Homo sapiens: one gene and its partner. The protein of the gene in region 1 purifies or fractionates together with the protein of each later gene. This does not show direct contact. Each region holds a gene or a part of one and is shown on either strand. Other genes may lie near its edges. The genes, in order: SLC22A7 and DNAJB12.

Region 1 (2,707 bases):
AGATGCCCTTGAGGACTGTCCCAAGAGCAACCCCTTGAAAGGCCCGGGGTTGGGGGGGTCTTTCAGCTAGCTACTGAGAGGTGGGAAGAGGAAAATTCTAGGCATCTGGTCATGTTTAGAAAGAGGTTTGCCTCCTCGAACAACATGGCAGGGCCTGTACAAACTACTGACCTTCTTCCTTCCACATCACCCTTTCCTTATCTCCCAGTCTGGTGACTTGTCTTCTCCTTTAGTGATACCTAATTGGTACTCTGTCAGAATGGGGGCCCTGTCCTCTGGTGGGTGCTGGCTTGAGGTCTCCTGGCCTGAAGGTGGGTGGGAAGACCAACTGAAAGAAGTCCTAGTTTTCTTAGCTATATGGGGAGAAGGGAGTATCAGGGCCTGCCAGCCCTGGAGGGAAGCCCTGTGGGGCATGACTCCAGGTAGGTGTGAACACCATCTGCCTCCCTCATCCTCTTTCTCTGAACAGACAGACAGGGATGGGGCTGACTGCACTGGTGGGCCGGCTGGGGGGCTCTTTGGCCCCACTGGCGGCCTTGCTGGATGGAGTGTGGCTGTCACTGCCCAAGCTTACTTATGGGGGGATCGCCCTGCTGGCTGCCGGCACCGCCCTCCTGCTGCCAGAGACGAGGCAGGCACAGCTGCCAGAGACCATCCAGGACGTGGAGAGAAAGAGGTGTGTGCACAGGACTGTGTCTGTGTACGTGTGATAACATGCATATGGATGCAGGTGCTCAGATACCTGACACCTTAGGATTCAGACAGGAAACTATATCTGCACATGTGTACTTGGTGCATGTATGTGTGCGTGCACAGGTGAGTGTTTCAGGGTGCATGATTGGGGGCATGTAAACTGCAAGCATAAATGTGTACATGAGTGTATGAACACAAATACATAAGGTTGTTCAGGAAGATGTGTATGTGTGCACACTCAAGTATGCCTACACATCAGGGGTGTGTACAAGCATGTGTGTGAGTCACTTGTACAGGCGTTTGTATACCAGGAACTGGGGTGAGCCCTGGGACAGCCCTGATGGGGCAGGCTGGGGTGGTAGGCTCGGGGATTAAACCCCACCATTGCTCACAACTCCTTCCTCCCTAGTGCCCCAACCAGTCTTCAGGAGGAAGAGATGCCCATGAAGCAGGTCCAGAACTAAGTGGGAGTGGAGGCAGGCCCTCCACAGAAGCTCTGCAGCAGGGGCTGGGAGAGCAGAAGGGCAGGCCCTGCAACTCAGGCTGGGAGTATCGAACCCTCTGCCTAGGGCCGGAGTTGCTGCCAGTACCCGCTCCCTCTGCTCATCCATCCTTGATTATTTGGCTTCTAGGAACAGTTGACTTCCCAGAATGCAGTGGGCTGCTGGGCACCCCTCTCACGGTTGGGGAGGATTCTGTAAATAAAGGTGCCCCTTGGGTTGGGGCAGTGGTGACGAGCTGTGGGAAGAGCCCTGGATAGGAAGCCACTGAGTCTGCCCTGGGCTCTGATAAAACCTTCACCATTAACTTGCTGTGTGACCTTGGGCATGTGGCTTTCCCTCTCTGGGCCTCAGTCTGTTCATCTCCCAAATGGATAATGAAGCCTCTTGGGAGGCCCTACCATAGGATCTGTTGCCATGCTCAAATGAGTTACTGAATAAGGTGCTTCTGCTTCTTCTAGAGATGGTGCTAAAGAAAGGACTAGCATATGAGACTTCTGGTACCAATGGGGCTGGTGGGCATGCTGTCCACTGTGTGGTGCTAGGACTGCCAATGCCAGGCCCAAGGGACAAAAAGAACAGAGCTTTTTGTTCTCATGGCTGGCCCTGCTACCTCCGAGGCACCCTGCAGGGCAATGCATGTCATCCCAACCCCCACACTCCCCATCCTCCAACCCACTGGTCTCATGCCCAAAGAAGAGTTGAAGGCATGGGAGCCAACATTTTATTGAAGAAGCCACAGAGGCTGAAATTCAATAAACACAAGTTTTATGAGTACCTTGAAGCTCCAGAATGTGCTGGGGAAAGGGGTTGTGATGGCCAGGAGGAGGATACCCTTCAAAACGGGCTGTTCCCTAACCAGATAGAAATGGGAAAGGGAAAAAATTGGCAGAGAAAGTCTAGACTCTCTGGCCTACCATGGAGCCTAGGCCCAGGCCCCCAAGATCCCACCTTCCCCAACCCCCATGGGACTGGAGATTTTTGTAGCTTCCATTGGACCATGAGGGGCATGATGGGAGGCCTGAGTTAGGGTGACCTTTTTTGTGAGCGTCTCATTTGAATTTTATCTTCACTGGGTCATAGATGTAGCAGCCCACATCGCCAATGTTCACACCTGAGAGAGAGAGCCCTATCACCAAAGGCCCTGGGTCTGTGGTGCAGGGTTCAGGCCTAGAGGGAACTTGGTGGGGGGGCCAGGGTATGCTTAACCACAGGGGAAGTTGTCCACACATACCCACAGACCATGTACATGCCATACTTCAGGCATGTACATGCCATCCCAGTGTCTGGGATGGGGCTGCCCACCTTTGGGGCCAAACAGGTAGCCGTAGCAGGGGACGTGGCAGTAGGGGACTCCATCATGCTGAGACACAGAGAGAAAGAGAGCTGTCTCAGCCTGGTTCTCTTCCCATCTCCAGCCTCCTCCCAACATAACCACTCATTCCTGCCCTGCTCACCTCAGCATGACTCCCAGCAGTCAGGGTCTTGTGGCAACGCTGGCACCTCAGACACGG
Region 2 (3,817 bases), on another chromosome or scaffold:
CTCGGCCAACGGTGAAGCTGGAGGAGAGAGCACCAAAGGCTACACTGCAGAACAGGTTGCAGCTGTGAAAAGGTAGATGGGTGGGCAGGGGCTGGAGCCTGGGGAGACTGGGGAAATCTAGAGGCTTCCTGGAGCATGTCCTCCACCTCCCATCTGCCTGTGGGCAGCACAGGGCCCTGGGAGGGTCTTGGAGGATGGAGAAGGTCCAAGGGTCCAGGCTCACCAGGACCTCTCCTTATTTCCCTCAAGGCCCAGGAATACAGTGTGGGAACTGGGGCTCCACCACCCCTCCCGCCACGACCCACAGCAGAGGCTGGAAAAGCTGACACTGCCGGCTTCCTCTGCCGCTGGCCAGGCAGGCCCCAGGCCTCTTTACACAGCTCTGTTTGTCAATAGAGATGGAGCTTTGTCTCCCCCTCCAGATTCTACCCCAACCCACATCCCAGCACCCAACAAAGACCCTTTTAGATCAGAGCCTGTGTGGGGTAGAATGGAGACCAGAGGCAGAGTTATTGCCCCACGGCTGTGAGCAGGCCCCACGCAGAGTAGCTCGCTACCAGGCCAGAGACCACCCAGCCAAGGCTCCTCAGGCTTAGACGTTCCCAGCTCCCATTTCTCCCCAGGTCTCCCAGCAGCTGGCCTTGGGAATCCCCCAGGGTCATGCCACAGCTCCTGGCAAGCTTCAGGACCAAGGCCGCCTGTGTGAGACTGAGCATGACTGCTGTTTGCCATAAAAGTGTAGGCGAGATCTGTACTTCACTGAGTCGGCAAGGTCCATTGTAGGCAATAGAAACTGATGTATGAGGGATTGGGAAGGCCTAGAAACGGCCAAGAACCAGGAGGTCTCCAGGGACGCGGAGAGGAAGAATTGGTGAAAGAGAACCAGGGTCTCTTTAGGCCCTGTGCTTGCGGTGAACAGTCACCTGCCACTTCTGGCCTTCATGTTACCCACTCAAGACTCAGATTGGGCTGAGCATGGTGGCTCATGCCTGTCATCCTAGCACTTTGGGGGGCTGAGACAGGAGGATCCCTTGAGCCCAGGAGTTTGAGACCAGCCTGGGCAATTAGAAGACCCTGTCTCTATCTTTAAATATTTAACATTTTAAAAACTTTTAAAAATTAAAAAAAAAAAAAGACTCAGATTGCCAGGAGAGTCGGTTGGCTGAGCTTGGGACACCACCCTGGGTGATGGACACCGACAGTCCTCCTGAGCTCTTCCCATGGGGAAGATAGATACTGGCCTGGCGAACCCCACAGATGCCCTCCTAAATCCAAGAATCCAGACGGTGTTCTTCTGTTTCCCGTGGTCCTGCCCAGCTCTGCATCACATTTGGTGCCCACTTGGCTCCCTTGTCCCTGGTGTCACACAGCTGACCCAAGGAGCTGTCAGCCTTGCCCTGTTGGTCCCCCGCAGCCTGCCCAGAGCTGTGCGCCCCACACGGCCTGTTCATCGCCCCCCTCACACAGACCCATGTAGAGCACCCCGTACCATGGTCTCCTCCTTCCCCAGGGTCAAGCAATGTAAAGATTACTATGAGATCCTGGGGGTGAGCAGAGGGGCCTCGGATGAGGACCTGAAGAAGGCCTACCGCAGACTGGCCCTCAAATTCCACCCAGACAAGAACCACGCACCTGGTGCCACTGAAGCCTTCAAAGGTAAGCCAGCCCTGCTTTCCTAGCATTTTGGTGTGTTCATCTCCTGTCCATGGCAGGGAGTAAGGGACCAAGACAGCTTTCCCAGGAAGCAGGGAGCAGGAGGAAGTGGCCTTGGGCCCAAGTTGCCCAGGCTTGGGAGCTGCTTCTTGGGAAAAAGGTTCTAGTAGCCACCTCTAGCTATGTAGAGTTGGTCAGAGCTCAGATAGCACCATTCCTGCCCCTGCTTCCTCTGCATTTCCTGGGGTTACGTAGTAGAGCTGAGGCAGGAAAGTTCTAGTAGCTTCTCCAAGGATTCTCAGTGATTGAGTGACTCACCGTGTGCGCTTCCCTGTCTTAGAGTCTCATAGCTGCCCACTGGGGTAACTGTTTCCCTGCTGAGGGGCAGGGTAGCCCCAGGTCGGGGGCCTCAGGCCTGGTGGCCACCTCAATACCAGCAGCCACAGCCAGCTCCCCCGCCATACCTATACACCTGGGGCTTGCAGTGGGGACATGGCAGTCTCTGGCTTCAGGGCCCACTGGCTCAGGATGGGTGCTTCATTTCTGGCTGAAATCGTAAGCTGCCCTTTATTCATTACATTTTCATTTAACCTGTCAGGCGCTCATGTGTACTGACTCTGTGCACTGCAATTTCTCATTGCCCCAAACATTACTGCCTTCTCTCATTCCCACCATGTCTTCCTTCTCTCATTCCCACTTCATCCACCTCCTTGGGAAATAGCATGGTGACTAGCCCCCACTGGCCTGGGCGGGGTGTGTGCTGTGCTGCACCCACAACCATAGCCAGCTGGAGAGCCTGTGGCAGAGGAGACTCCGAGACCTGGTGTGCAGTGTCCCGGGGCCCTGGAGGAGGAGAGTGGGAGTGGGGGGAAGCAAGGTAGCCCTGTTGAATGTTTCTCCAGCCCCAGCCTCTGCCTGCAGCCTGCTCCGACTGTACCGAGAGGCCAGCTCTGGCCTTGAGGCCTATTCAGAATTGGCGGAGGAGACGATTCCGCGCTCCTTATTCCCGGGGGTTTCAGGATGGGAATCAGATGTGGCTTGGACCCACTCCTCGGAGTCAGTGGCAGCTTGAGGAGAGGGAGTGAGAGACTGAGGAGGTCAGAGCTGGGGTCCTTCAGGGCACAGCCGTCCCGGCTAGGGGGCCCTGGTGGGAGGCTCCAGGCCCAGATAGGAAATAACGGTTGGGGCCTGGACCCCAGAGAGTGGGGGACTCACCCCAGCTGCATCACCAGAAGTGGAGGAGTCTCCATAGAGCCCCGAGATTTGGCCCTTCCCCACAGCTCCTGCTGCTTTCCAGTTCACAATAAGGATATTGTGTGTCTGTCTGGCCTGCATGTCAGACTATGACTTCAGGTTTACAGAACCTCCAGAAAGGGATGCCCATCCTATTGGGCACGTCAAGAGAGAATGAGGAAAGAGGTTTTTGGTGGTTTTCATAAAGTCGGAGAGAGAACTTGAAGCAAGAGACACCTGCTTTTGTTTGACTCCCAGCTCTGTAACATATTAAAGCTGTGTAAGCTTAGGCAGTCACTTCTCTGAGCCTCAGTTTTCTCATTGGTGAAATGGAGATAGGGTTGCTCTTAGAGGTAAATGAGTTGACCTGGTGTGGTGGCTTATGTCTATAATCCCAGCACTTTGGGAGGCCAAGGTGGGAGGATCCCTTGAGCCCAGGAGTTTGAGACCAGCCTGGGCAACTTGGCAAGACCTCATCTCTACAAAAAATACAAAAAATTAGCTGAGTGTGGTGGTTCACGCCTGTAGTCCCAGCTACTCAGGAGGCTGAGGTGGGAGGATCGCTTGAGCAAAGGAAGTTGAGACTGCAGTGAGCCACGGTTGCTCCACTGCACTCAGCTTGGGTGACAGAGTGAGGCCCTGCCTCAAAAAATAAAATAAACAAACAAAAAGAAGTAAATGAGGCCACACTCCTAGGAGGCCTGGCACATTGACAAAGCTTGACCATTGTCTTGAGGAGAACAAGGAGCCTGTGTTACCCTCCACCCAGCCAGGCTGCCCAGATCCACTGAGGGGTCTTCCTGCATGCCCCCTCCTTACACTGGCCAAGCTTCCTGCCCACCCCAAGGACGTCTGCTTCCTAAAGCACTGCTTGAGTACCTGAGAAAAGTGAGCACTCGGCTGCCATGGGAGCCTCCCCCCGCACCCCAGG

The links.
Region 2: the proteins of SLC22A7 (region 1) and DNAJB12 purify together in Homo sapiens (affinity purification with mass spectrometry; one large-scale study listed by BioGRID and IntAct). This does not show direct contact.

What each region holds. Positions count from the first base shown.
Region 1 is NC_000006.12:43,303,569-43,306,275, forward strand, and holds the end of SLC22A7 (solute carrier family 22 member 7), read left to right. Parts: exon of another isoform or gene 1-463; intron 464-469; coding exon 470-676; intron 677-1,102; coding exon 1,103-1,157; 3' UTR 1,158-1,654; coding exon of another isoform or gene 1,655-1,685; 3' UTR 1,686-1,970; downstream 1,971-2,707. Other genes in the region: CRIP3 (cysteine-rich protein 3), read right to left, coding at 2,246-2,307, 2,499-2,556, 2,651-2,707.
Region 2 is NC_000010.11:72,341,205-72,345,021, reverse strand, and holds part of DNAJB12 (dnaJ homolog subfamily B member 12), read left to right. Parts: coding exon 1-72; intron 73-1,510; coding exon 1,511-1,656; intron 1,657-3,817. UniProt on the Homo sapiens protein: Acts as a co-chaperone with HSPA8/Hsc70; required to promote protein folding and trafficking, prevent aggregation of client proteins, and promote unfolded proteins to endoplasmic reticulum-associated degradation (ERAD) pathway.